Linked DNA regions of Homo sapiens. Each later gene encodes a partner of the first gene's protein in a complex. Each region holds a gene or a part of one and is shown in the gene's direction. Other genes may lie near its edges.

Region 1 (10,175 bases):
TTAATACTCAGAAAGAATATATAGTGCCTACCACGTGACAAACACTGCATAAATTTTTTTTTTTTTTTTTTTTGAGACGGAGTCTCGCTCTGTCGCCCAGGCTGGAGTGCGATCTCGGCTCACTGCAACCTCCACCTCCCGATTCAAACAATTCTCTGCCTCAGCCTCCCAAGTAGCTGGGATTACGGGTGCCCACCAACACGCCTGGCTAATTTTTTTTTGTATTTTTAGTAGAGACAGGGTTTCATCATCTTGGCCAGGCTGGTCTTGAACTCCTGACCTCGTGATCCACCCGCCTTGGTCTCCCAAAGTGCTGGGATTACAGGTGTGACCACTGCACCCGGCATAAATTCTAATTACTATAATTATTTTTATGGCTATTACTGTCATTAGATTGAACCTCACCTCCTTATATTATTTAACCCTCTGTGACGTATACAAATGTCAGATCATATTGGTCAAGGCACTGTCACCCCACACAACACAGCTGCCATCTCTCCTCTGCATTGAGGACTATGGGCTCTGCAGCCTGAGTGCCTAATTTCAAATCTGGGCTCATCGGCCTCTTCTATTCACACTGATTATGTTACTGACCATCAGTTGTCACATCTGCAAAATGGGAATAACATGGCCATCAGCCAGGATTATGGAATGGATTGGACAAACAAGCTGAGACCAAAGTGGGGCACAGAACATGAGCTCTACGGATAAACAGCCCAGATCCTGGCCCCATGGATCTAGCCTTCTGGGTGGCCCACGGGCCCCTCAGCATCCTACGCCTGTGACTCTGTCACTGTCCACTTGCCCAAGTCAGAAGGCTGGACTTCATCTGTGCGCCCCCTGCCTTGTCCTGAATCCCACGCCTTCCCCACCTCCCCCAAGCTTCCTTCCCATAGCCAGACATCATGCCCTCCAGCTTGGGGAAGTGCCAGCTTCTTCTTTCATCCCTTCACCTCCAGTCCTGTCCATGCCAATTCTTCCCAAAGGTGATGTGGATAGCACACTCATCTGACCGGCTCTAGCTCCTGCTATCGCTTCCCAGTTCCCTCATGAGGTAAAGACCTAAGAGGCTTTGCAATTACAGCTATGCTGGTCTCCCTTGCCGCCTGCCATCCCCCAAGATCCCGGCCACTGATCTCTAAAGTGCTATCACTTTCCTCAACAGAGAACAGACTCAGCCGTCACCTGCACCAGGCCGCTCTCCCTGACCCCCAAGGCTGGGTCAGCTGTCACAGCTGGGTCCCCTGTTTTCCCCCATCACTCTGGTTCTTGAAGCACCTTCCTATTACGTCGCAACCTGCGTGAGGGCAGCAACCGCGACTTCCTCGTCCATCATCGTACCCTCTACCCACGCTGACCGTGCCTCAATAAACGTTTATTGCATGAGGAACATCCGTGCGTCTGGGCCCTCACTCGTCCCACTTCCCGCCCGCACATCCCGGAGTGGACACATATACAGCTACCCCAAACTAGGCCTGAGGGAATTTGGCTTGGACGTAGAGCGCCCGTGGCAAGGGGACTGTAGGTGCAAGGGCAAGGCGGTCCGGCATCACGGGCCCGGCTCACCTCGCCCAGCGCCTGAAGGCTCTTCACGGCGCCCACCACCGCCTGGTGCTCCATGCCCAGCTCAGCCGCCAACTCGGCGCTGTCCAGGCCGCCATCAGACGCCTCCAGCCGCCGGAGCAGCAGTTCCGCCACCTGACCATCCGCCATGACTCCTTCCAGTGTGCTCAGCGTGTCCGGGCCCGGGTGGGCGGGGGGAGCTGAGCCACCGGAACCGGAACCGGAGTGTGTACCGCCATCTTGAATGTGTCTAACTGTAGAACAGGGCTCAATGTGTCGTCATCTTGAGTGTGGCGACGGAGCCGCAAAAGGTGCATGGGACTCAGTTCCCACCTCCACCCTGGCTCCATCAATGGCGTCTGGTTGACCAGAGGGGTAAAATTGATTATCTCAAGGTCAGAAGCACCGCCCTGTTTTGAGTTTTATCTAGCCTCACTTCGAGCGGGCTGTGTGACCTTGGACTTCCCCGTCTCTGGGTTACAGAACCCTCTGCCCTTCTGGTATTCTCTCTTGCCCTAGGAGAGGCGGTGGGTGGTGGGCTCCAGAGATGGTCATTTTGGCGATGTCAGCTACTTTTAAAATTTCAAAGGAAGGCTGGGTAGGTACCGTCCCTTTTTATAGAGGGAAAAGGAATTCACCTAGTAAGTCAAGGTGGCACCTAACCTGTGTGGACTACCTCGTATGTGGTAGTACTTAGCCCAGAACTGAGTACTTCACGTGTAGTATTTCATTTATCCCCAAAACTTTATGATGTAGATACTGATATAACCGCATTACACATGTGAGAAAACTGAGGCTCAGAGGGTGGTATGACTTGCCCAAGGTTCTACAGAGAGTTGGTGGAAATGAAGTCATAAATTATAAACCTTCCAGATCCTCCCACCCCTGTGCGCTGAGAGTAACGTCAGTGCAAATACTGCATGGCCTAGATTAGCACTGTCCTATAGAAACACAGTGCAAAACATCTTTCTTTTTTGAGACAGGGTCTTGCTCTGTCACCCATGCTGGAGTGCAGTGGTGCAATTATGGCTTACTGCAGCCTTGACTTCCCAGGCTCTAAGGATCCTCCAACCTTAGGCTCCTGAGTAGCTGGAACTGCAGGTGCGCGCCACCACACCCAGCTTTTTTTTTTTTTTTAAGTATGGGTTTTGGCCATGTTGCCCAGGCTGGTCTCAAACTCCTAGGCTCAGGTTATCCTCCTGCATCGGTCTCCCAAAATGCTGGCATTAGAGGCATGACCCACCTCGCCCAGCCAGCCAGACCCTGACTCTTACAAAAAAAAAGATGACTAATAAAATATTTTGCACTCGGCCGGGCACAGTGGCTCACCTCTGTAATCCCAGCACTTTGGGAGGCCGAGGCGGGTGGATCACCTGAGGTCGGGAGTTTGAGACCAGCCTGACCAACATGGAGAAACCCCGTCTCTACTAAAAATACAAAATTAGCAGGGCGTGGTGGCGCATGCCTGTAATCTCAGCTACTTGGGAGGCTGAGGCAGGAGAGTCGCTTGAACCTGGGAGGCAGAGGTTGTGGTGAGCCGAGATCGTGTCATTGCACTCCAGCCTGGGTGACAAGGCGAAACTCCGTCTCAAAAAAAAAAAAATTGCACTTTTTTTCATACTAAATCTTCAAAATCTGATGCGTATTTTACACTTACAACACATCTCAGTTCGGACCAACCACATTTCAAATGGTCAGTAATCACATGTGGGCAGTGGTGACTTACGTCAGCACAGGTAGATTAGAATCCTAGATCTGCTGGCCAGGCTCAGTAATCCCAGCACTTTGGGAGGCTGAGGCGGGTGAATCACCTGAGGTCAGGAGTTCAAGACCAGCTTGGCCAAGATGGCGAAACCCCATCTCCTCTAAAAACACAAAAATTAGCTGGGTGCAGTGGGGGTGCCTGTAATCCCAGCTACACGGGAAGCTGAGGCAGGAGAATCACTTGAGCCTGGTAGGTGGAGCTTGCAGTGAGCAGAGATCGCACCACTGCACTCCAGCCTCGGTGACAGAGCAAGGCTCTGTCTCAAAAAAAAAAAAAAAAAAAAAAAAGAATCCTAGATCTGTTATTTATGTCATTCAACCAGAAGGTGTAGTCTTTCTGTGCCTCAGTTTCTTGCTCACATGGAGGTGATTGGAGCCCAGGTTACTGTGAGAATTAAATGCCCACACATATTCACACTGCTTACTAAATTGAGTGTGGCCCATGTTCGAACACTCTTATAAGCAGAACACATTTATTCCTTTTACATCACAATTATTATTTGAGTCTGTAAAATGGGATTACTCATATCCCCAAATCCTGACCCTATATGAGGTTCTGTATTAAGGATACATTTCTCAAAGTCCCTTCTCTCCTCCCATTTTATGTTGATTATTTATTTATTTATTTAGGGAGTGGGTCTCACTCTATTGCCCAGGCTGGAGTGCAGTGGCATGATCTTGGCTGACTGCAGCCTCCACCTCCTGGGCTCAAGCAATCCTCTCACCTCAGCCTCCCGAGTAGTTGGGACTACAGGTGTGTACCAGCAGGCCAGGCTAATTTGTGTTATGTATATTATATATTATATGCTATATATAATATACATACTATTCATATATTTATGCATTATATGTCATATATAATATATTACATATGTGTACATATATATATTTTGTAAGAATGAGGTTCCACCATGTTGCCCAGGCTGGTTTTGAACTGCCGGGCTCAAACAATCTGCCTGCCTCAGGTTCCCAAGGTGCTAGGATTATAAGTGTGAACTACCATGTCCGGCTTATTTTTATTTATTTTTGAGACAGGGTCTTGCTCTGTAACCCAGGCTAGAGTGTGCAGTGGCAACAACACAGCTCACGGCAGCGTCAACCTCCTGGTCTCAAGTGATCCTCCTGCCTCAGCCTTCTGAGTAGCTGGGAACACAGGCAGGCGCCACCACGCCTGGCAATTAAAAAAAATGTTTTTGTAAAAATGGCCTCCTGCTATGTTGCCCAGGCTGGTCTTGAACTCCTGGCCTTAAGCATTCCTCCCATCTTGGCCTGCCAAAGTGTTGGGATTACAGGCGTGAGCCACTGTGCCCCGTGTGTTTTTAGTTAATTTCCACAAGAGTCCTTCCTTCCTCTCTTCTATCATGCAGCAAGTACTTTTTAAGCCTGTTCTGTGCCAGGTGCTGCAGGTGACACTGGAGGATGCGAAGTGAACAAAACAGGCAGTGTCTAACCTCAAGTAGGAAGCGCCAAGCCCACAGGTGCCTGACACAGGAACAGGAGGAAGGGTCAGCAAGAGGCCTGGGATGGTCCCCGGGATCCTCATGGGGGGGACCAGACTAGGCAATACTGAATACTACCTAGAGGAAGTGGTAGAACCCCAACTTCCCAGTTCATTCTCCCCCGTCTTTTTTTCGAGATGGAGTCTTGCTCTGTCACCTGGGCTGGTGGGCTGGAGTGGAGTGGCGTGATCTTGGCTCACTGCAATCTCTGGCTCCCAGGTTCAAGCGATTCTCCCACCTCAGCCTCCCGAGTACTGGGATTAGAGGCACCCGCCACCACGCCTGGCTAATTTTTATTTATTTATTTATTTTTATTTTTAGTGGAGATGGGTTTTCACCTTGTTGGCCAGGCTGGTCTCGAACTGACCTAAAATGATCTGCCCGCCTCGGCCTCCCCAAGTGCTGGGTTTACAGGCGTGAGCCACTGCGCCCGGCCACCATTTCTTTTTTTTTTTTTTAACCAGAGACCCTTGCCAAGTCATTCCCCCCACTCCACTTTATTTTCCTTTTCATTTTTTCCTTCCTCTCTTTTCTGAGTCACAACCATTAGCCAGGAAGCACCCCCTCCCCACCCTCTTTCCTGGATCCCCCTCATTCCCTCCTTCCATAGTCCACTCCCGCGCTCCCAGGTCCAGGGCTTATTTGCCCAGAGTTTGGAAAACCCCCAGCTCTCCTTCCTCCTTTCTACAGCGTGGGGGCAGGGTACTGGTGCCAGTCACGTGCCTCTGGCTTCTGAAGAAGACTCTAGACTGGGGTCGGGGGGTGGGTCCTGCCCATCTCCCTAGCATCTTATCGTCCCTACCATCTGTGTCTTTTTTCCCTCCCCAAACGGAACCCCCTGCCCTCTCGCCTGCCTATAGCCGTTTAATTGCAAAAGCCAGGCCGTTTGTGGGAGACCACAGACAGCGACCCCCTTCATTTACCGGTTGAGAGGAGGGTAAAGGGGCGGCTGCAATCTGGGTAATAACCCTATCCCCACTCCAGAAGTCACAGTCACATCGTTAAGCCTTCCTCCCCTCTTGTCCCAGGACAGCTTTAAAAACGTTAAAAGCATTTCTGCTGGGTAGCATCTGGCCAGGGTCGCCCCCTCTGTCTGCTCAGGAACGTCTGTCACTTCAGAGAGCTTAAGTGACTTGCCCCGGTCACACAGCAGCAGTCCGATAGGCTGCCAGGGCTCTAGGGGCAGAAGGAGGAGAGGGCTGGCATTCTTCCCACCGGCCCGCGTGACTGTAGCACCGGGGTGCAGCGAAGCCCCAAGGGCCCCAATCCGTGAGCTCTCTCCCATCCCAGGCAGGGGTGGGGGAGCAGCAGTGGGGTGCTGGTTCTCAAATGCAAGATAAGAGCTGGCTAAGAAAGCCTTGCCCAGCCCCTCCACCTAGAGGGAATGGGAGGGAGAGAAGCTGAGGGCAGGGTCCCGGTCCCGCGTGGAGACAGCTGCGCTCCCGCGGTTTCTTTAAACGCCCAGATGGGCAACGACGCGCGCGGACGAGGGCGGGGTTGGGTTCAGGTCTGGTCACATGACCTGGCCTGAGGTGCTCGCGGCCCCCACCCCACCAGTGGGCGTCCCCCCCACGCGTGGTCGACCATCATTGGTCGGTGGTGAGGCCAATAGAAATCGGCCATCTGGGAACCCAGCGTTCCGAGGCGCAGCCTAACATAGTGAACCGACGAAGGTCCAATGGAAAAAGACGGCCATGGGCATAGACCAATGACAAAGTGGCAGGGGCGGGCCCAAGGGCTGGGTCAGGTTGGTTTGAGAGGCGGGTGGGTATAAAAGTGCAAGGCGGGCGGCGGCGTCCGTCCGTACTGCAGAGCCGCTGCCGGAGGGTCGTTTTAAAGGGCCCGCGCGTTGCCGCCCCCTCGGCCCGCCATGCTGCTATCCGTGCCGCTGCTGCTCGGCCTCCTCGGCCTGGCCGTCGCCGAGCCTGCCGTCTACTTCAAGGAGCAGTTTCTGGACGGAGGTAACGCCTGGTCCCGCCTCGAGGCCGCCCCGACGACGCGGCCGGCCCCCGATCCTGGATCTGCGTTGTCGCCCGTAATTACCGTTTAGAGGTCCAACACGGTGGCCTCCCGGGACTAGAGCCGCGGGCGATTTCTCTTCTGCGTCCCTGGGGAGCGCGGAGGGCGTAGCGGCCTCCCGCGGCGGGAGTTAGGGTTAGCCCGAGGATCTCTGAAGGCACCCGACGTGTCAAACTAGAGGTTGGAATGGGGAGTGTCGGGGATCTCCTTTCCTGTCCCCAGCAGCTTGTGGCTCTCGGCAGATGTTTGGTGTGGGGGGGGATTAGCACAGCCGCTCTGACCTACCCCTCTAATCCCCCACTTAGACGGGTGGACTTCCCGCTGGATCGAATCCAAACACAAGTCAGATTTTGGCAAATTCGTTCTCAGTTCCGGCAAGTTCTACGGTGACGAGGAGAAAGATAAAGGTAAGAGCCTAGGAGTGGGTGCTCAGATCCGGGAGGACTTCCTGGCAGAAGTCCTTGTCTGTACACACACAGCCGGGACAGTCCCCTTGGAGGAGGACAGGTGGAGGAAGTGGGGGAGTCTTCTCTATTCTCTAAGTCGAGGGTCCTCGCGAGTCAAGGCCCAACGGTGACCTCACTACCGTCCCGTCTCAGGTTTGCAGACAAGCCAGGATGCACGCTTTTATGCTCTGTCGGCCAGTTTCGAGCCTTTCAGCAACAAAGGCCAGACGCTGGTGGTGCAGTTCACGGTGAAACATGAGCAGAACATCGACTGTGGGGGCGGCTATGTGAAGCTGTTTCCTAATAGTTTGGACCAGACAGACATGCACGGAGACTCAGAATACAACATCATGTTTGGTGAGGGCCTGCTTCCTGGTGCTGATCTCTGTCCCATTAGTTAGAGGGAGACCCAGACCCCATTGACTTTCTTAATAATGATTTTTTTTGGAAGGGGAGCTAAAAGAATAAGTCCCAGCAACAATTTATTGCATTATGATCGCAGATCTAGGCTGTTAATTTAATTTGCGTGTTTGTATATAGTTATTTCCCAATCTTACTAATGAGGATTTTGAGTTCTAGAGCACTGATTTTTTTTTTTTCTCCTTTAAACTTAAGGCTCCACCCACAGCCCATTCAGGACAGAATCAGGGTCTGAGTTTCTCTTCTCAGCCTTGACAGACCCGAGTTGAAGAACCAGGTCTTCCTTTTATAAAGAGGGGTGAGAGCCTCGAGATGATGGGTAGTCTCTGACTCTTAACTGGATCTGCTTCACACCTAGGTCCCGACATCTGTGGCCCTGGCACCAAGAAGGTTCATGTCATCTTCAACTACAAGGGCAAGAACGTGCTGATCAACAAGGACATCCGTTGCAAGGTGTGCCTGGGGGTGGTGGCAAATGGCTGTCATGGGGAGATTCAGAGGTCAGCCTCATTGGGGGGTGGCCCCCGCTCACCTTCTTCCTTCTTCAGGATGATGAGTTTACACACCTGTACACACTGATTGTGCGGCCAGACAACACCTATGAGGTGAAGATTGACAACAGCCAGGTGGAGTCCGGCTCCTTGGAAGACGATTGGGACTTCCTGCCACCCAAGAAGATAAAGGATCCTGATGCTTCAAAACCGGAAGACTGGGATGAGCGGGCCAAGATCGATGATCCCACAGACTCCAAGCCTGAGGTTGGTGTTTGGGCAGGGGCTCTGCTCTCCACATTGGAGGGTGTGGAAGACATCTGGGCCAACTCTGATCTCTTCATCTACCCCCCAGGACTGGGACAAGCCCGAGCATATCCCTGACCCTGATGCTAAGAAGCCCGAGGACTGGGATGAAGAGATGGACGGAGAGTGGGAACCCCCAGTGATTCAGAACCCTGAGTACAAGGTGAGTTTGGGGCTCTGAGCAGGGCTGGGGCTCACAGTGGGGAGTGCACCAACCTTACTCACCCTTCGGTTTCCTTCTCCCTTCTGCAGGGTGAGTGGAAGCCCCGGCAGATCGACAACCCAGATTACAAGGGCACTTGGATCCACCCAGAAATTGACAACCCCGAGTATTCTCCCGATCCCAGTATCTATGCCTATGATAACTTTGGCGTGCTGGGCCTGGACCTCTGGCAGGTGAGACTTGGAGGAAAAAGGAGGATCCCTGGGGTACCTCAAGTGCATAAGATCACCCAAGAGGAAAGGGACAGGGTAGGCACCCCAGGTGAGTCTGACTCAAAAATGGTACTTCTTGTAAACAGTACTTCCTGGTCTGTCCCTGTGAAGTCCTCACAGCAACCCCTTTAAGGTTATACTTGCTGTGCACCAAGTACTTCCCCAAGTACTTTTATGCAAATCAACTTCTTTACCCCCAAAGACCTAGAAGGTGGTCAGGTAACCCAGTTAGTTAGCTGGGGCTGGGCACAGTGGCTCACCCTTACAATCACGGTACTTTGGGAGGCTGAGACAGAGGATTGCTTGAGGCCAGGAGTTACACAACTCAACCTAGCTTGGCAACACAGCGAGGAGACCCTATCTCTACAAAAAAAATTTTTTTTTTTGAGACAGAGTTTCACTCTTGTTGCTGAGGCTGGAGTGCAATGGCACGATCTCAGCTCACTGCGCCCTCCGTCTCCTGGTTTCAAGCGATTCTCCTGCCTCAGCCTCCGGAGTAGCTGGGATTACAGGCATGTGCTACTATGGATGCCAGGCTAATTTTTTTTTTTTTTTTTTTTTTTGAGACCGTGCCTTGCTCTGTCGCCCAGGCTGGAGTGCAGTGGTGTGATCTCTGCTCACTGCAAGCTCCGCACGACCCCCCAGGTTCACTCCATTCTTCTGCCTCAGGGTCCCGAGTAACTGGGACTACAGGCACCCCCCACCATGCCTGGCTAATTTTTTTGTATTTTTTTTTTTAGTACAGACATGGTTTCACCGTGTTAGCCAGGATGGTCTCCATCTCCTGACCTCATGAACCACCCACCTTGGCCTCCCAAAGTGCTGGGATTACAGGCGTGAGCCACCTCACCCAGCCTTTTTGTAGAGACAGGGCTTCATGTTGCCCAGGTTGGTCTCGAACTCCTGGCCTCAGGTCATCTGCCCGCCTCGGCCTCCCAAAGTGCTGGGATTACAAGGGTTAGCCACCATGCCTAGCCTCTACAAAAACTTTAAAAATTGGCGAGATGTCATGCATACCTGTAGTCCCAACTACCAAGGAAGAAGGATGATCACTTGAGCCTGGGGCATCGAGGCTGCAGTGAGCCATGATTATGTCACTGCACTCCAGCCTCGGTGACAGAGTGAGACCCTCTCAAAAAAAGTTGGGACTTGGCCGGACACAGTGGCTCACACCTGTAATCCCAGCACTTTGGGAGGCCAAGGCGGGTGGATCACAAGGTCAGGAGATGGAG
Region 2 (9,137 bases), on another chromosome or scaffold:
GTTCAAGACCAGTCTGGCCAACATGGTGAAACCCTGTCTCTACTAAAAATACAAAAAATTAGTTGGGCATGCTGGCAGGTACAGGTAATTCCAGTTACTCGGGAGGATGAGGCAGGAGAATCTCTTGAACCCAGGAGGCGGAGGTTGTAGTGAGCCGATATTGCATCATTGCACTCCAGCCTGGGCAACAAGAGCAAAACTCCATCTCAAAAAAAAAGAGTTTTCTTTTTTTCTTTTAGAGACAAGGGCAGGGCGAGGTGGCATGTGCCTGTAAGTCCCAACTACTCTGGAGGCTGAGGCAGGGGGATCACTTGAGTCCAGAAGTTCTGGGCTATAGTGCAGTATGTCAATCAGGTGTCTGCACTAAGTTCTGCATCAACATCGTGACCTCCAGAGAGTGGGGGACCACCAGGTTGCCTAAGGAGTGGTGAACCGGCTCAGGCTGGAAAAGAAACAGGTCAAAACTCCCATGCTGATCTGTAGTGGAATCATGCCTGTGAAAAGTCACTGCACTCCAGCCTGGGCAACGGAGCGAGACTCCGTCTCAAAAAAAAAAGAAAAATAGGCCGGGCGTGATGGCTCACCCCTGTAATTGAAGCACTTTGGGAGGCCAAGGCGGGTGGATCATGAGGTCAGGAGATCGAGAGTACCCTGGCTAACACGGTGAAACCCGTCTCTACTAAAAATACAAAAAATTAGCCGGATGTGGTGGCATGTGCCTGTAGTCCCAGCTACCCGGGAGGCTGAGGCAGGAGAATCGCTTGAACCCGGGAGGGGGAGGTTGCAGTGAGCTGAGATTGTGCCACTGGACTCCAGCCTGGGCCACAGAGCCAGACTCTGCCTCAAAAAAAAAACAAAACAAAACAAACAAAACCAAGAAAGAAAAGTAAATAGGCCGGGCGTGGTGGCTCCCGGCACTTTGCGAGGCTGAGGCGGGCGGATCACTTGAGGTAAGGAGTTCAAGGCCAACCTGACCAACATGGGGAAACCCCGACTCTACTAAAAATACAAAAATTAGCTGGGCGTGGTGGTGTGCACCTGTAATCCCAGCTACTCAGGAGGCTGAGGCAGCAGAATCGCTTGAATCTGAGAGGCAGACATTGCAGTGAGCCAAGATGGTGCCACTGTACTCCAGCATGGGCAACAGAGCAAGACTCCGTCTCAAAATAAATAATAAATAAATAAATAAATAACCAAATAGAGACAGGGTCTTACTCTGATGCCTAGGCTGGAGTGCAGTGTCGTGATCATAGCTCACTGCAACCTGGAACTCCTGGGCTGAAGGGATCCTCCTACCTCAGCTTCTTAAGTAGTTGGAACTGCAGATGTACATGCCACCATGCCAGGCTAACATTTTTAAATTTTTTATTTATATGGAGATGGTGTCTTGTTATGTTGCCTGGGCTGGTTTTGAATTCCTGGCCTCAAACAGTCCTCCTGCCTTGGCCTCCAGGGTAGCTGGGATTATGGGAGTATGCCATCATGCCTGGCTATCATCATTTCCTCTATATTTATCTATTATTATATGGCTATGAATGAACCATAATTTATCAATCTCATTTTGTATCAAATTTTATGCTGTTTAAACAATGTTATGGTCAGGTGTCATGGCTCGCACCTGTAATCCCAAAACTTCGGAAGGCCGAGTGGGGAGGGTTGCTTGAGCTCAGGAGTTTGAGATCAGCCTGGGCAACATAGTGAGACCCCTGTCTCTACAAAAGAAAAAAAATTAGTTGGACATGGTGGCACACACCTGTGATCTCAGCTACTCACAAGGTTCTGGTGGAAGGATCTCATGAACCCAGGAGTTCAAGGTTGCTGTGAACTATGATAGCACTACTACACTCCAGGCTGGGTGACAGAGCAAGACCCTGTGTCTAGAAAAGTAAAATTAAAAAAATAAAAAATGTTACAATCTCTGCCATTATCCATGAATATTCCCTTAGGATAAATTCCTAGAAAGGTATGTAAAAGTTTAGATTCCTCTAGGCAGATTATCTGAACTTTACTCCCATCACCACTTGGAGAAGGCTATTTCTCTGCACTCTTACTAACACTGGCTTTTTTTTTTTTTTTTTTTTGAGACAGAGTCTTGCTGTGTCGCCCAGGCTGGAGTGCAGTGGTTCGATCTCGACTCACTGCAACCACCGTCTCCCAAGTTCAAGCTATTCTGCCATCTCAGCCTCCCGAGTAGCTGGGATTACAGGCACCCGCCATCATGCCTGGCTAACGTTTGTATTTTTTAGTAGAAACAGGGTTTCACCAGGTTGGTCTTGAACTCCTGACCTCAGGTGATCCATCTGCCTCGGCCTCCCAAAGTGCTAGGATTACAGGCATGAGCTACCGCGCCTGGCCGACATTGGCTATTTTTTAAAAAAAATAAATCTTAATCTATTTGTAAGGCAAAACATGAAACAGGAAGCTTTACATACTCTTAAATCTCACACTAGGCTTTTTTTGTATTTGGACTGTTTAGCATTTTGTCTATGTTGCTGAAACCCTTTGAAGTTACAAGATCTATTTGTGTTCTTCATGTAATTGTTCTTCCCCCCAACCTTGGGCTAACAGTCTGTGGCCTTCCTTGGTAACTAAATGCAAGAGTGATATTAATACCTTACAAGTTCCTCCCTTGCAAATGGGAGCCCTAAGTCAAGGCACAGATAGAATAGGAAAAAGCTTCTGGTTGCTCTTCAAGAAGTTTATCGAGTTAGATACAGTGAAAAGCAATGGAGATATTAGGAGAATAACAAGATGGGCATGGAAGAGTTTCTGTTTGCTCTTCAAGAAATATCTATTGAGTCAGATATTGTGAAAAGCACTGGAGATATAATAAGACGGGCATGGTGCCTTTCCTTATTTAGCTCATGGGCAGGTTCCAAGAAGCTTCTAAAGGCGCAACATTTTGTTTTCCATATCTGGCACCTAGATATACCTATTCAGTAAGTCAACAATATTTATTGAGCATGTACTATGGATTAGGCATTATCAAGGCCCTGAGGATAGAGCAGTGAAATAAAACAGACAAAACCTCTATCCTCATGAAGTTTACCTTTGGTTTACCTTCTGGGCTACTGTCAATAAAACAAGTAAAATATATAAATACAAAATATACTGTGAGGCCGGGTGCAGTGGCTCACGCCTGTAATCCCAGCACTTTGAGAGGCAGAGGCGGGCAGAACACTTGCAGTCAGGAGTTTGAGACCAGCCTGACCAACAGGGGTTGAAACCCCGTCTCCACTAAAAATACAAAAATTAGTCAGGCATCGTGGCACGCGCCTGTAATCCCAGCTACTCGGGAGGCTGAGGCAGGAGAATTGCTTGAACCTGGGAGGTGGAGGTTGCAGTGAGCCGAGATCGCGCCACTGCACTCCAGCCTGGGTGACAAGAGCTAGACTCCGTCTCAAAAAAAAAAAAAAACTGTGTTAGATAATGATAAATGTTTTGGATAAAAATGAAAGTGGGATTGAAAGCATGGGTGTGTGTGTGTGTGCACATGCCATGCATGCAAGCAGTGTAAAATAGAGTGCTTAGGGAAGACTGGACTGAGAAGGTGACACTTAAGTCAAAGTCTGAAGGAGGTGAGGAAGTGAGCCATGTGGATATCCACATGATTCTATGGAGCACAAAAGGAGACAGACTCTCTGCTTGAAACATTTCTACAACCTATAGCAGCAAATATATGGTAATATTTGTGACAACATTCTGTAAGCTATAATGGTCTATAAATATAGGATGTTTTCAGTCAACTACACATAAAACTATTAACAAGAACAAGATCATATATCAGCATTATGAATGTATATAAAACTACCCAGTACAATTAGGGAATATGATCATGTACAATTTAAGGACTATATGGTACCAGAAAAACTCTGGTTAGTTTTTTTCCCCCCCAAAGGCGAAAGAGGAAAACCCTTGAGGCTTCTGCTTGGAAGCCCACTTGTTGTTTGTGGTAAGGTAGGATATAATCAGTATTTGTGGGTATAAAAATTATATTCTCTGGGAAGCCAGATGATGTTAGAGAGAAACCATCCCATGAGTTATTTGCATGTTGATGGGGCCAAAAGCTTCCAGAACAAAGTTTTCTTTCTTAATCTGCATTTAACTGCCTCACAAGGTCTGGAACCTAGGAATAAATGTTGGCTTAAACAACAACAACAACAACAACAAATTGTACTGCTTGCGTTCCATCTAGACCCAGGGATTCCAGAGTAACTCAGGAGGAAGTCTTTAGAGACCTAACCTGAGTTAAGAAAAAAAAATATATATATATATTTTTTTTTCGGTAAAAGCAGGTTATGGCTGGGCAATCGGTCTCTTAATAGAATCTTTGTGAACTTCCTTATGTCGCAGCGATCGTTGCCAGGTTGTGCGTTCACACTGATTATCTTGCTAAAAAGCACTCCCTGCACTTGGAACACACATATTCACATCCCAGCAAAGAAGGAAGGCCTGGATGCTGTTGCTTGTCTGCTGGGGCAAAAAGGGGCGTGCCATGTGCCCAACGCTGGCCAAGCACCAGTCACTCACTCATCCATTTATTCAACAAATATCTTATTATGCTCCTATTCAGTGCCCAGTAGGGGTGCCTCCTTGCCCACCAGGGTCATCTAGAGCTCCTGTGGGTGCGATGGGCGGAGTCGAGAACTTCAGATTCCCAGGCCTGGCTCTTCCCTCCAGTAGGGATCGGAGACAAAGAGATGCGCCCCTGCAGCTCCCTAGGTTGAGGGCTCCGCCCGCGGCCCCAGGGGCTTAGGTGCGGCTGCTCCTCCACTTCCCAGCCCGAGGGGGCGCTGCAGCGCCCGGCGCTCGGCCCGCCCCTACGCCGCGCTCCGCTCGCATCGGCGCTGCGGGCGGCGCCGCGGTGATACGTTCCCCCTCGCCGCGCTCCCCCTCCTCCTCTGCCCTCCCCGCCGGTGGTAGGTGCCGGAAGTGCCGCCATTTTGGGGTGTTCTGCTCTGGCGGCAGCGGCAGCGGCGGCGGGACGCGGAGGCTCCCCCGGGATTCGGCCTCAGCAGCGAGGCGGCGGCGGCGGCTGCGGAGGCGCAGGCAGCAACTGAGGCAGCGGCAGGCTCAGGTGCAGCCGCTGGTGAGTGCTGCGGCCGCAGGATAACGGGCCGCGGGAGGGAGGGAGGGGAAAAAAGGCAAGAGGGAGGCGCCGCGGGGCGGGTCCGGTTAGGGAGGCCGCGGGTCACAGGGCCCTCCGGGCGCGGCCTTTTCTCGTTCCCTGCGTCCTGGGGTAGGGCTGCGATCTCCTCCTGCATGTCGGGGTCCCCGGCTCCCCGGGTCCTGTCGCGTTTGCCCAGCGCGTGCCCCCGCGCCCAGGGAGACCCGCCCTCCTCGTGGCTTTGCTTCCTCTCCCCGCGCCCTTTACCTTCACTCTCTAGGCTCAGAGGCCTCGTGCCCTGCCCAGGGCCAGCTCCGTTTTCCTCGTCTTTCTGGCTGCCGTGCTGGACCCAGGCTACCTGCCCGGGACACCCCATCTCTGCCCCTGTCGTCTCACGTGTTCTTAGTGTCCACTCCTGTGGGTGCCGAAGGGTCCGCGCCCCTAGAAGGCAGCGCTTTTCCCGAGCCTCGAGAGCCCCTCGTTCCTCGCCCCAGATCCGCTACGGCCTTGGCTCGCCCTCCCCCCACATCAGGTGCTCACCCAGTCGTGGCCTAGTAGCTGGGCAGGAATCTCGCACCCGGGAGCGGGAGGAGCACATTAAAGCGCTTTCTTCGCTAGGGACCAGGCTTTGATTTTAAAGCCAGTGGTGTCGTGGTTGTGGTCCTCCGGGTAGGATGTTGTTGTAATTCTTGGAGACCATTACACATGCACCAAGGAGCTTCTCATTGGTTTAGGCTCATACCCATAGTTGAGGGGAATGTGGTAAGATTTTGACTGGAATCTGTTTCCGCAAAATGGAATCTCTTTCTCGCCAGGAGAGAGCTGTAGGTTTATTACCTTCGAGTAAAAAGGCTGTATAACAGTTTTAAAGAGCATGAAATGCTTTATAATGTGTGCAGTGTAAGAGGTTACAAATAATGAATCTTTTACAAGAACTTCATCTTTTTTTTTTTTTTTTTTAAGACGGAGTTTCGCTCTTGTTGCTTAGGCTGGAGTGCAGTGGCGCTATCTCGGCTCACTGCAACCTCCCCAGGTTCAAGCAATTCTCCTGCCTCAGCCTCCCAAGTAGCTGGGATTACAGGCATGTGCCACCAGGCCTGGCTAATTTTCGTATTTTTAGTATAGACGGGGTTTCACCATGTTGATCAGGCTGGATGGTCTCGAACTCCTGACCTCGGGTGATCCACCCGCCTCGACCTCCCAGAGTGCTGGGGATTACAGGCGTGAGCCACCGCCCCCGCCCGGAACTTCACCTTTTAAAGTTCTTTTCACTGTCTTTGATTACCCATGAATTGGGAAGGCTTTAATTGGATGCTTTCCCCTTGCCCACAAGTGTAGCTTCTCTCCAAGCGCTTTGGAAGTTTCAGCCTCTCTATTAATCCTTGGTGAGAATGAAGGCGTCTCAATATAGAATCACCCTTTCTGTTTTAGCATTAAAGAGTCCACTTAGAAAATCATGGAATTACAATAGCATGCACAAACTGTTGCTACAGTGATTTTCTTCTCATGTTAATTTTTATATTCTTCAGGCTTTACTTACCTAGTATGTGGTTTCTGATCATGAGTTAGCCAAGATTGAAGCAGCACTGTTGGTAAAGCAAAGCTGGAGCTTTCAGTTGTTGCTTTAACCAGGAAGGTTATGGTTCCCCTAGTGGTTCTTTCCTCATGACAGTCCACCACCTGTTTCCATTAAGAATGGCCTTTGGCCCAGATCACAGGCCTCAACTTCTATTCAACCATTCATTCTGACCCCTTTAAAGAAAACCCAGGGTTTTCTTTAGAGATTGTGCTATCTAGACTTAAGATCTGGTAGCAAGAGGGGCTGTTAGAGATGGAATATCTTTTCTAGAACCCCTTCACTTTTTGGATGAGGAAACTGAGGGCCCTAGAAATTAAGTGACTTACTTGCCCAAGGTTATGTTTTTTTTTTTTTTAAACAATATCACGAGTAATAATGCAATCTTCCCTTTGAGGTGTAATGAAATGGGAAAGGACCCTGAATTGAAGTTAGAACTAGGCCTGGATTGTAATGCTTGCTCTGTCATTTACTGGTTACACAACCTTGGCAAGTCACTCAACTGTTCTGCTCCTCAGTTTATTCGCACCTGCAAAATGAAAGAAACAGCATCTGTCTCACATGGTATTAGTTCAGCTTCAGTAACATGGTGAAATACCCATGATGTAATAGGCAGACAGTGAAGTTTTTAGCCAAAATGATTTTTTTCTAAAGACTTCCGTGTATTTTTCTTAATACAGAAGTTACAGATTCACTATAAAAAAAAAACAGGTAAGTCAAAAAATGAAGAAACTCACCCATAGTGCCACCACTCAGAGATGATTGTTAAATATTGGGTCTTTATCTTGCCCATCCTTTTCATATGCTATAGAAATGCCTATCTTCCCAAAATAGGCTTATCTTAGTCACAGTTTTGTGATGTGGGTCCGGTCCCCCCCAACCCCGCCATGGAGTCTTGCTCTGTCAACCATACTGGAGTGCTCACTGCACACCCTGTCCCCCGGGCTCAAGCAGTTCTCCTGCCTCAGCCTCCCGAGTAGCTGTGATTACAGGCGCCCACCACTGCGCCCAGAGGGTTTTTGTATTTTTAGTAGAGATGGGGTTTCACCATGTTGGCCAGGCCGATCTAGAACTCCTGACCTCAGGTGATCTGCCCACCTCAGCCTCCCAAAGTACTAGGATTATAGGTGTAAGCCACCGTACCCGGTGTTTTTTTTTGTTTGTTTGTTTTTGTAGAGACAGGGTGTCACTGTTTTGCCCAGGCTGGTTTTGAACTTCGGATTACAGATGTGAGCCACTGAGCCTGGCCTACATTTTAAAATTGTGGTTAAAAACACAAAATTGGCTGGGCGCAGTGGCTCACACCTGTAATCCCAGCACTTTGGGAGGCTGAGGTGGGCGGATCACGAGGTCAGGAGTTCGAGACCAGCCTGGCCAATATGGTCAAACCCCATCTCCACTAAAAATACAGAAATTAACCAGGTGTGGTGGCATGTGCCTGTAGTCCCAGCTACTTGGGAGGCTGAGGCAGGAGAATCCCTTGAGCCCAGGAGGTGGAGGTTGCAGTGAGCTGAGATTGCACCACTGCACTCCAGCCTGGGCAACAAGGCAAGACTCTGTCTCAGAAAAAAAAAAAACAAAAAAAACCCACAACATTTACTAACTTAGCCATTTTTAAGTGTTCTGTGACATTAAGTACATTCGCACTGTTGGAAAACAGATCTGTGAGTTTTTCATCTTGCGTATCTGAAACTCTATGCCTGTTGGACAACAGCTCCCCTTTTCCCCCTCCTACTAGCCCCTGGTAACCACCATTATTTCTGTTTCTACCAATTTGACTACTTTAGATAACATCATGTAAGTGGAATCATACCATGTCTGTTTTTTGTGACAGACTTATTTCACTTAGTGTAATGTCCTCAAGACTCATCCATGTTGTACTGTGTGACCGGATTTATTTCCTTTTTAAGGCTAATACTCCATTGTGTATATATATATATCATATTGTTTATGGACTGCATCCACTAATGGACTTTTGGGTTGCAGCTACCTCTTGGCTATTGTGAATAGTGCTAATGTGACTAGGTGTGCAAATAGGTATTCCAGCCTCTGGAACAATATCAGTTGTTTTGGATATATACCCCAAAGTGGGATTGCTGGATCAAGTGATAATTCTGTTTTTAATTTTTATTATTTTGAAAGAATCTAGGCCACTGGAATAGTGTTTTTTTATTTGTTTGTTTGTTTTTTGAAGAACCCCTATACTTTTTTCTATAGCAGTTGCACCATTTTACAGTCTTGCCAGTAGTACACAAGGGTTCCAGTTTCTCTACATCCTTGACAATACTTTTTATTTTTTCATGGCCATCTTAATGGGTGTGAGATACCTCACTGTGGTAGTTTTGATTTGTATTTCTCTGCTGACTAGTGATGTTGAGCATCTTTTCATATGCTTGTTGGCCATTTATATATTATCTTTGGAGAAATGTCTGTTCAAGGCCATTTCCCAGTTTT
Region 3 (10,162 bases), on another chromosome or scaffold:
CTTCCAATCTGGTTTCTTTCCCCACCCCGCTTCTGGCAGATGCTTGGAGCATTCCCTACATGCCCAGCATATGCAACCCGAGATAGCAAGGCTGGACACTGGAGCTCTTTCGGACCTCATCATGGCCCAGGGAGAAAAGAAGGGCAGATCTTGATTAGGGGGAGAGAGCCCTGTGGGTTTAGAAGGGAGAACCTGGTTCTGGTGTGGCTTGGGGCCTAGGTATGCACTGAAGAGGGTTTGTACCTTTGAAGAAAAGTGTGGAAGAGGGAATTGCCAGGCTTTGTATGGGGAGATGTGCGTATTAGGAAATAGCCCCTAGAGAATGCTTGGAGAAGCAGAGCTGGATGAGGTGGTGACGTCCTTGTCCCTTATTCACCTCTCACTTAACGGCCCTGACTTCACTCTGGCCTCCTCCAGACCCTGCCAGTCAGCCTGGCAGGGGCTTTCCAGTGTTCTTTGCCTCACCCTGGGTACCAGGATAAGGAGACTGTTCAGAGGGCTGAGGTTCTCTGAACTTGTGACTTGGCTAGAAGGGACAGAAGTGGACAGGTGGCTGGTTAAAATAGGCCTGGTGGCTTCTAGCCAGAGGAACTTAGCTGACCTGACAACCTCTGGATTCCCTCATTCTATATTCCCATTAAGGACCCAGGGATCTCCTCCCGACTCCTACTCCATGTGCACTAGGGAATCTGAGGCACTTAGTTCCCAATGATGGTAGTTGCTACAAATAATTCTTGGGGTGAAGGTTGCGTTGTGGGGGTCGTTTCTTTGTTCAGTGTAGCAGGATAATATCACAGTTAAGAGGGCAGCTTCGGCCGGGGGTGGTGGCTCTTGCCTGTAATCCCAGCACTTTGGGAAGCTGAGGCAGGTGGATCATGAGGTCAGGAGCTCAAGACCAGCCTGGCCAATATGGTGAAACCCCGTCTCTACTAAAAATACAAAAATTAGCTGGGCGTGGTTCGCGCGCCTATAGTCCCAGCTGCTTAGGAGGCTGAGGCAGGAGAATTGCTTGAACCTGGGAGGTGGAGGTTGCAGTGAGCTGAGATCGCGCCACTGCACTCCAGCCTGGGCAATGGAGTGAGACTCCCTTCTCAAAAAAAAAAAAAAGAAAAAAAAAGAGGGCACGTTCTTGGGTTGAACTGCATTGGTACAATCCTGGCTCTATCACTTCATTGATTCTACTTTTTTTTTTTTTTTTTTTTTTTTTTTTGCGACGGAGTCTTGCTCTGTCACCAGGCTGGAGTACAGTGGTGCGATCTCGGCTCACTGCAACCTCTGCCTCCTGGGTTCAAGCCACTCTGCTGCCTCAGCCTCCCGAGTAGCTGGGGCTATGGGCACGCACCACCACGCCCAGCTAATTTTTATATTTTTAGTAGAGACGGGGTTTCACCATGTTGGCCAGGATGGTCTCCGTCTCTTGACCTTGTGATCCGCCTGCCTTGGCCTCCCAAAGTGCTGGGATTACAGGCATGAGCCACTGCGCCTGGCTGATTCTACTAATATCAACTGACCACTTTTGCTACTGTGTTCTAGGCACTGGGAATACAGCCATGATCTAGACAAAATCATATTCTCATGGAGTTTTCATTTTAATTAGGGAGAGAAACAACTTAAGATAATTCCTAGCTGTGTGGCCTCAGTTTCTTTAACCTTAAAACAGGTATAACAGTAATATTATGGTTGTTTTGAGGATTAAATGAAAAAGGCCAGCGTAGTGGCTCATTCCTGTAATCCCAGCACTTTGGGAGGCAAAGGCAGGAGGATCACAAGGTCAGGAGTTTGAGACCAGCCAGGCCAATATAGTTAAACCCCGCCTCTACTAGAAATACAAAAATGAGCCGAGCGTGGTGGTGCACGCCTGTAGTCCCAGCTATTAGGGAGGCTGAGGCAGGAGAATTGCTTGAACCTGGGAGGCGGAGGTTGCAGTGAGCCGAGATCATGCCGCTGCACTCCAGCCTGGGCAACAGAGCGAGACTCCATCTCAAAAAAAAAAAAAAAAGAAGAAGAAATAAGCCTAAATTACATACATAGTACCTGTGGTAAATGTTCATTATGTGCTCCCTGTTACTGTTACTGGGGAAGGCTTCCTTATCAAGGGTTTCAATCCTCTTTTGTGCTATTTGTAGGTAATTCAGTACCAAACTGTTCGATATGATATCCTCCCCTTATCTCCTGTGTCCCGGAATCGGCTAGGTAAGTATGTGGTGGGAAGCCTCCTTTAGGGTGAAGTAGGGGCTAGCTCTGGGTCAGAGGTCGGTCAATATTATTCCTCCCCACTCTGGTTCAGCCCAGGTGAAGAGGAAGATCCTGGTGCTGGATCTGGATGAGACACTTATTCACTCCCACCATGATGGGGTCCTGAGGCCCACAGTCCGGCCTGGTACGCCTCCTGACTTCATCCTCAAGGTGTGTGGTGGTGGGGAGTGATGAAATGGTTCCATCTGTTCCTCTGCCCAAACCTGGACTCCCTTTCCCAGTCCCAGAGCATCTGTCTCCATCCGCTGGCACCAGTGTCAGCCTGGAGGAGGGAAGCAGATGGGTGGGGCGTTTTCTAGGCCTGGGTTGTGGTGGTCATGACATCCCCCAGCCCATCTTGTTCCTCTGTAGGTGGTAATAGACAAACATCCTGTCCGGTTTTTTGTACATAAGAGGCCCCATGTGGATTTCTTCCTGGAAGTGGTGAGTTTTGGAGAGCTAAAGGGAGCTCTGTAATGAAGGAATGGTTTTAGGGCTCTGGGAATTGGGAGGATTTGGAGGAAGGGGTGAGGAGAAACGGGTTAGAGCAGTTTTCTAGAGGGGAGGCTGTGTAATGGTAGGGGAGTGGCTTTCAGTACTTGGGGTTCATTTGTTGTGCTGATGTAATTCTTTTCCGCTGGCATCTTTCTCTTTTGTTCTTGCATTTCTGAATCATAAGAGTGTAGGATGCCTAACACTGAGTTTGGAGGTTTGGGCTGGGGGTTCAGAATTTCGTGTCCTCAGAGACATTTGATGTTGATGGAAGGCCTGAAGGACTATGCCATTGCCTTTCTGAAAGATAACTGTATGTCTAAAGGAATCATCACCTTGTATGGCATCGCCCTCTCCCCCAATCTATTTCAGGTGAGCCAGTGGTACGAGCTGGTGGTGTTTACAGCAAGCATGGAGATCTATGGCTCTGCTGTGGCAGATAAACTGGACAATAGCAGAAGCATTCTTAAGAGGAGATATTACAGACAGGTAAGCTAGAATCCCAGTCTAAGAGTGTGGCTTGGGAGGGAGGCCACCAGGGAGGGATCTGGGTTTGAGGAGAGTATCCTGGAGAGAGGCCTGCTACATGATCCCCTGCCTTCCAGCACTGCACTTTGGAGTTGGGCAGCTACATCAAGGACCTCTCTGTGGTCCACAGTGACCTCTCCAGCATTGTGATCCTGGATAACTCCCCAGGGGCTTACAGGAGCCATCCAGGTACGGGGGAAGGTGGTGAGTCTGGCAGGACCAGAACATGGTTCTGAGAAGGTATTTTTGCAGGAGACCTGGGCTTTGGTCCTTGAGAGCTGGGATTCCCTAGATTATCCCTAGTTTGCTGTAAGTCGAAATGCAAGTTATTTTTGTGTTTCAAATGAGATACCATATATGTCCATTTCATAAGTCGGATTTCTTATATCATTTTTTTCATTTTTAAAATTTATTTTTGGCTGGGCACGGTGGATTATGCTTGTAATCCCAGCACTTTGGGAGGCCGAGGCAGGCGGATCACGAGGTCAGAAGTTCGAGACCAGCCTAACAAACATGGTGAAACCCCATCTCTACTAAAAATAGAAAAAACTAGCCAGGCGTGGTGGCGCACGCCTGTAATCCCAGCAACTCGGGAGGCTGAGGCAGGAGAATCGCTTGAACCCGGGAGGCGGAGGTTGCAGTGAGCCGAGATTGCACCATTGCACTCCAGCCTGGGTGACAGAGCGAGACGCCGTCTCAAAAAAAATAAATAATAAATAAATAAAAATAAAATTTATTTTTATTTATTTTTTGAGATAGGGTCTCACTCTGTTCCCAGGCTGGAGTGCAGTGTCATGATCATAGCTCACTGCAGCCTCGATCTCCCAGGCTCAAGTGATCCTTCTGCCTCAGCCTCTCAGTAGTTGGGACTACAGGCGTGCACCACCATGCCCAGCTAATTTTTTTATTTTTTATTTTTTTTTGAGACAGAGTCTCGCACTGTCACCCAGGCTGGAATGCAGTGGCGTGATCTCGGCTTACTGCAACCTCCGACTTCCAGGTTCAAGCAATTCTCCTGCCTCAGCCTCCCAAGTAGCTGGGATCACAGGCACCTGCCACCACGCGCAGCTAATTTTTTGTATTTTTAGTAGCGACGGAGTTTCACCACGTTGGCCAGGCTGGTCTTGAATTCCTGACCTCGTGATTCGTCCGCTTTGGCCTCCCAAAGTGCTGGGATTACAGGCGTAAGCCACTGCCCTTGGCCAATTTTTTGATTTTTAGTAGAGAAGGGATCTCATTATGTTGCCCAGGCTGGACTCAAACTCCTGAGCTCAAGTGATCCTCCCACCTCGGCCTCTCAAAGTGTTGGGATAACAGGTGTGAGCCACTGCGCCTGGCCAAGTGTGTTTCAAGTGAGGCACAATGGCAGTAAGCTTGACTAGAAGCATCAATAGGTATGAGATCTGGTGATTAAAACTTAGTTTCGGAGCATAAACCAGGAAAGTTTTACTTAGGTTGTTGACTTCCGGTAGTGGGAGGCATATATTTTTAACAATAATTCCTCCTTCCCTCCAAGAAGAGAAAAACACCGTCTCTCTTGAATTCTGTTTCTTCTCATCTGCATTTTCACCCACCCTAGACAATGCCATCCCCATCAAATCCTGGTTCAGTGACCCCAGCGACACAGCCCTTCTCAACCTGCTCCCAATGCTGGATGCCCTCAGGTAAGGGAAGTGGGCTCTGGACACTTGGATATCTCAAGAAAGGAGGAGGTGGGGGATCCTCAGAGGGAATAAAAAAGGTTTGTCCTGTTTTAACTCTGTTCCCTTAAGAATTTAACATTTGGACCCAGGTCGTCTTACTTCAAAGCTCATCACTTTAGCTAGTAGGCTGTGGGCAAATTGAACCTATCTAATCATGAATATGGTGATAATTTAGGTCCCACATCTCCAGTGATGCTGCCTTACAAGAGTGTTGTGAGGGTATGAACTATAAGGTACTCTACCAATGCAAGTTATTGTCACCCCAGGTTCACCGCTGATGTTCGTTCCGTGCTGAGCCGAAACCTTCACCAACATCGGCTCTGGTGACAGCTGCTCCCCCTCCACCTGAGTTGGGGTGGGGGGGAAAGGGAGGGCGAGCCCTTGGGATGCCGTCTGATGCCCTGTCCAATGTGAGGACTGCCTGGGCAGGGTCTGCCCCTCCCACCCCTCTCTGCCCTGGGAGCCCTACACTCCACTTGGAGTCTGGATGGACACATGGGCCAGGGGCTCTGAAGCAGCCTCACTCTTAACTTCGTGTTCACACTCCATGGAAACCCCAGACTGGGACACAGGCGGAAGCCTAGGAGAGCCGAATCAGTGTTTGTGAAGAGGCAGGACTGGCCAGAGTGACAGACATACGGTGATCCAGGAGGCTCAAAGAGAAGCCAAGTCAGCTTTGTTGTGATTTGATTTTTTTTAAAAAACTCTTGTACAAAACTGATCTAATTCTTCACTCCTGCTCCAAGGGCTGGGCTGTGGGTGGGATACTGGGATTTTGGGCCACTGGATTTTCCCTAAATTTGTCCCCCCTTTACTCTCCCTCTATTTTTCTCTCCTTAGACTCCCTCAGACCTGTAACCAGCTTTGTGTCTTTTTTCCTTTTCTCTCTTTTAAACCATGCATTATAACTTTGAAACCAAAGCGGCCTTAGGTCCTTCTCTGGGGTTTTGGGAAGTGAAGAGAGGGGACTTTGTTCACATGCACCCTGTCCCACAGGCAGAGGGGGAAGAGACTGCTGTTGGACTCAAGGGGCAGGGGGAAAGGTGGCGTTGAGTATAGGGATAGAATAATGCGGACACCAGATGCCTGGGATACAATAATGCTGACACCAGATGCTTTGGCGGGAAGGGCCGAGTGACAGGATGGGCGCGCTGGTGGGGAGTGGAAGGACACCTTCGGAGAAGCAGGCTATGGAAGCACGAAAGGAGAAACCGGCTATGGAAGCACGAAAGGAGAAACCTGGACGGCCAAAGGGCGTAGAGCTGGAGAAACCGGGCTTCGTCCGGGGCACTGACGTGGACAGGTTAAGCGGGCGCTGCCCCCAGGTGGCTGGCGCCCCGACCTCCGCTGTCCGGGAAGGCGTCGGTCCCCCTCCCAGCTGTCGCCCAGCCGGCCCCGCCTCCCCGGCGCCCTCCCAAGCCGGCCCTACTTCGCGCACCCGCCACGTGACGCTCCGCCCTCTTTGAGATCACATGATTTAACTCAAGTCCCGCAGTGTTCCTCCGCGCTGGCGTAGTCCCTACCTTTCCAACCTCCTCTCCAGTCCCTATTGGTCTACTCATTTTGGCACTTAAGCGTTCTGTAGATCTCTCCAAACATCTGTTTTCTTTTTGACTTCTTATTTCTGGAGATCATCTCCGCCACTTGGGTACTACTTTGTTTTGGTGTCAACGGCCGCCTTCAGCGTAGCAACACGGTTCGTGAATAGCTAACCTTGTAATTGTCCCTGCTGTTCCTCTACGTTGTTAACGAAAGGAACTTGGAGAACCAAGTCTCGTATGATGATTACCATCTTTTACTCCTCTTCAGCCCCAGCTTCCTTGAGGGGACGGTTGGGGAATAGGTTTAGAGTAATTTTCGATGAGCAAAAGCCAACCGTCTTTGCTACGTCGCCTGCGTAGCCCACAAATTGATTCCAAAGCGATTACGCTAATGGCGTGAGGGGGCCGGTCAGTTGGTGGTGCTACGCTAGCAGCGTTAGCGCCGCTGAGGTAGTGGCGTATCTTAGCGGGGGGGGCAGTCCCCGATAGTCGGGGGCGGGGTTGGTGAATAGGGAAGTGGCGCAAATTCGTGGATCGCTCCGCTGAATCCGCCCGCGCGTCGCCGCCGTCGTCGCCGCCCCCCGTCCCGGCCCCCCTGGGTTCCCTCAGCCCAGCCCTGTCCAGCCCGGTTCCCGGGAGGATGAAGTTCGTGTACAAAGAAGAGCATCCGTTCGAGAAGCGCCGCTCTGAGGGCGAGAAGATCCGAAAGAAATACCCGGACCGGGTGCCGGTGAGGACAGTAGCCAGGGCCGAGGGCGCGGGACGCTTACGCTGACGCCACAGCCTGGCCTTGGATCGGGACAGGCAGCGCAGGGATCAGGCTGCTGGCTGTGGTGGGGTTGGCAGCGAGCCTGAAACTGCTGTCCTTGGGACCCAGGATGAAAGGAGTGGGGTAGTGGTGGATGTGGGGTTGAGAGGGATGTGGACAGGAGAGAGAAACCTTAGCATTTGAGGCCTTAGAGAGTTTGACAGCCTGAGCTTCAAATGGTCATCCCCCCAGCTAGCTAAGGTTGCGAGATTGAATCACTAGTCGACCCAAACAAGTCACCTCCGTCTGATTAAGATAGTTGTTTATGGTGACGCCCTATTGGGGGATGGATCCTGGATATTTAAATGAGCTCCAGTCAGTGAGGTCAGGATCTCTGGGACTCAGTGCTGCACCGCGTGTACAAAGACAAAGAGATGAATCTGGGGTAGATTTAGGTGCTAGGAATATTGTTTCTTGAGTTCTTGACAGGTGCAGCTTCGGGGCTGCATTCCTTCTGTCTCCTAATTTTCATCTCTTTATCAGGTGATAGTAGAAAAGGCTCCCAAAGCTCGGATAGGAGACCTGGACAAAAAGAAATACCTGGTGCCTTCTGATCTCACAGGTGGGAACCTGATCCAAGACTCAGGCTTGCTTCCTGTGGGTGGGAGTGCAGTCTCTGCGGGAGGAGGCTCCACCTAGCAGCTGTTCTTTTGAGGGCATTTTTGACCTCTGTGACTTTCTTGCATCTTGTATCTTTTGCAGTTGGTCAGTTCTACTTCTTGATCCGGAAGCGAATTCATCTCCGAGCTGAGGATGCCTTGTTTTTCTTTGTCAACAATGTCATTCCACCCACCAGTGCCACAATGGGTCAGCTGTACCAGGTATGGTGACTGGGAAGTGGTGGAGGCTTTGGAGAGGAATCTTGGAAGAGCGTGAGGGGAAGAAAGTGTTGTTACATCAGTAGTTTTGGACTAGCTTCCTGGCTTGCCTTAAAGTTTCATAATAGCCGTGGGTTGGGGGTTTGGACAGAACAGTAGGAGTAGAGAGAAGGAAAGAGAACAGTGAGCTAGAGAAACTATCTGTTCGGGACTCTTCCCAGTCCCCCTCCCCATTCCAAAGCAGCAGAAAACAGTTTGAGGCCTTTTTGCCCAGGACTGCAGAGATTATACTGCTCGTGTGGTAGGCCTTGGAGTCAGTGAAGGAGTCAGGCAATGGTTTGTGGTTCTAGAAGAACGTGTCTGGGTCGTGGTTGGTTTAAGTTACTGGAGCCCAGTTGCTGAACAGTTTTCTGCTTTCATCCCAGGAACACCATGAAGAAGACTTCTTTCTCTACATTGCCTACAGTGACGAAAGTGTCTACGGTCTGTGAAGCTGCTGCCCCTGAGCTGGAGGGGGGTCTCATTCTACAAAGAGAGAGGTGGCCCCCCTTTCTTGACCTCCTCCTCCTTCAAGCTCAAACACCACCTCCCTTATTCAGGACCGGCACTTCTTAATGTTTGTGGCTTTCTCTCCAGCCTCTCTTAGGAGGGGTAATGGTGGAGTTGGCATCTTGTAACTCTCCTTTCTCCTTTCTTCCCCTTTCTCTGCCCGCCTTTCCCATCCTGCTGTAGACTTCTTGATTGTCAGTCTGTGTCACATCCAGTGATTGTTTTGGTTTCTGTTCCCTTTCTGACTGCCCAAGGGGCTCAGAACCCCAGCAATCCCTTCCTTTCACTACCTTCTTTTTTGGGGGTAGTTGGAAGGGACTGAAATTGTGGGGGGAAGGTAGGAGGCACATCAATAAAGAGGAAACCACCAAGCTGAACTGAATTTTGCCTTGTGTTGCTCCCCTCGTCCCGCTGATTTTAAGTCTTTCCAAGGTGTCAGTGGGTTTCAGTGGTGGGGAAAGAAGAGTACTGGGTACAAGCTGGAGGGATAGAAGTATATTTTGGTTTATTCTGTTCATGTTGGGCTTTTCCCTGTCTGCAAAAAGAGGGTGCTTTTGTTGTGATGGAATGGAATACTGAGGATTATTTCTTGAAACTTTAGTTTTATAACACGCATGTGAAACTAAATGTTAAAAATGCTCATGTAAAAAAAAATTTTTTTTTACTGTGGGTTCCTGTGGAGAAAGTTCCGAAGTACCTGCTTTAGGTGAACATCCACATTTGCTAGAACATTCTAACTAAGATATTTTCATGTGTGCAAGCTAGTAAAACGGCTGTTCTCAGTTGCATGTCACTTGGCTAGACTTTTGCCGGTGTGTGGGATCCGGCAGAGTGGAATCAGGGAGGGAGAAGACTGGGAGCGGGAGCCATTATCGCCAGGAATACTTCAACTCCCAGCAATCATTTCTCCGGCAGGCCGGAAGTGGGGCGGTCCTCCTGGGGAGAAAGAAGCTGCAGAACGAGGCAGTATGGTGGCCGAGAGTTCTAATCCCTTCTTCCTCTTCTTTCTTGGTCCCGCCCAGCCTACATCTCCCAGGGGCCTGCGCGCGCACTTCCGCTCTCCCCTCCGGCTCCTGGTCTCCCCGCCGCTCCCCGGGGGAGGGGAGCGGCTTGGTGCGCCTGCGCCAGCCTGTGGCTTTCTGGGAATCAAAGTTCCGGAGGTTCATGCGGTCCCTTTTCCGCTGTTCCCGGACGGACTACAAAACCCTTGGTGCACTGCGCCTCGGCGCCGGCGGGGGGAGGAGGGAGAGAAGAGGAGGGAGGGAGGAGAGAGGAGGTGGAGGAGGAGGAGGAGGGAGCAGGCGGCCGGCGGCGCGGGGGGAGGGGGCCCGGTCCGGGAGTGCGGGAGGCAGTGGTAGAGGGAGGTGGCGGCAGCGGCTAGCGGACTCGAGTCTCAACCGGGCTGAGGCGGACACTTCTGTGGAGCGAAGCAGTGGGAGCATCGAGCACTAGAGGCGGCACCGGGATCCCCGGCTCCGGGGAGGGGGG

The links.
Region 2: CALR (region 1) and CELF1 share a complex: the UniProt entries of both Homo sapiens proteins name them as parts of the EIF2 complex.
Region 3: the proteins of CALR (region 1) and GABARAP are in contact, whole or in part, in a crystal structure (PDB 3DOW), measured with the Homo sapiens proteins. Residues at the interface, in NP_004334.1 of Homo sapiens: Asp199 (codon at 8,362), Trp200 (codon at 8,365), Asp201 (codon at 8,368), Phe202 (codon at 8,371), Leu203 (codon at 8,374), Pro204 (codon at 8,377), Pro205 (codon at 8,380); in NP_009209.1 of Homo sapiens: Glu17 (codon at 7,188), Ile21 (codon at 7,200), Tyr25 (codon at 7,212), Arg28 (codon at 7,221), Pro30 (codon at 7,227), Val31 (codon at 7,791), Ile32 (codon at 7,794), Lys48 (codon at 7,842), Tyr49 (codon at 7,845), Leu50 (codon at 7,848), Val51 (codon at 7,851), Pro52 (codon at 7,854), Leu55 (codon at 7,863), Phe60 (codon at 8,018), Leu63 (codon at 8,027), Ile64 (codon at 8,030), Arg67 (codon at 8,039), Phe104 (codon at 8,572).

The regions. Positions count from the first base shown.
Region 1 is NC_000019.10:12,931,984-12,942,158, forward strand, and holds the start of CALR (calreticulin precursor), read left to right. Parts: upstream 1-6,625; 5' UTR 6,626-6,696; coding exon 6,697-6,787; intron 6,788-7,150; coding exon 7,151-7,252; intron 7,253-7,444; coding exon 7,445-7,648; intron 7,649-8,069; coding exon 8,070-8,164; intron 8,165-8,259; coding exon 8,260-8,469; intron 8,470-8,500; exon of another isoform or gene 8,501-8,557; coding exon 8,558-8,671; intron 8,672-8,760; coding exon 8,761-8,904; intron 8,905-10,175. Other genes in the region: FARSA (phenylalanine--tRNA ligase alpha subunit), read right to left, coding at 1,567-1,713. UniProt on the Homo sapiens protein: Calcium-binding chaperone that promotes folding, oligomeric assembly and quality control in the endoplasmic reticulum (ER) via the calreticulin/calnexin cycle.
Region 2 is NC_000011.10:47,548,944-47,558,080, reverse strand, and holds the start of CELF1 (CUGBP Elav-like family member 1), read left to right. Parts: upstream 1-4,948; 5' UTR 4,949-5,089; intron 5,090-9,137. UniProt on the Homo sapiens protein: RNA-binding protein implicated in the regulation of several post-transcriptional events. Involved in pre-mRNA alternative splicing, mRNA translation and stability.
Region 3 is NC_000017.11:7,239,308-7,249,469, reverse strand, and holds GABARAP (gamma-aminobutyric acid receptor-associated protein), read left to right. Parts: upstream 1-7,020; 5' UTR 7,021-7,139; coding exon 7,140-7,229; intron 7,230-7,790; coding exon 7,791-7,869; intron 7,870-8,009; coding exon 8,010-8,128; intron 8,129-8,550; coding exon 8,551-8,616; 3' UTR 8,617-9,462; downstream 9,463-10,162. Other genes in the region: CTDNEP1 (CTD nuclear envelope phosphatase 1), read left to right, coding at 2,127-2,193, 2,288-2,406, 2,608-2,679, 3,100-3,216, 3,333-3,444, 4,835-4,919, 5,225-5,285; PHF23 (PHD finger protein 23), read left to right, coding at 9,839-9,884. UniProt on the Homo sapiens protein: Ubiquitin-like modifier that plays a role in intracellular transport of GABA(A) receptors and its interaction with the cytoskeleton.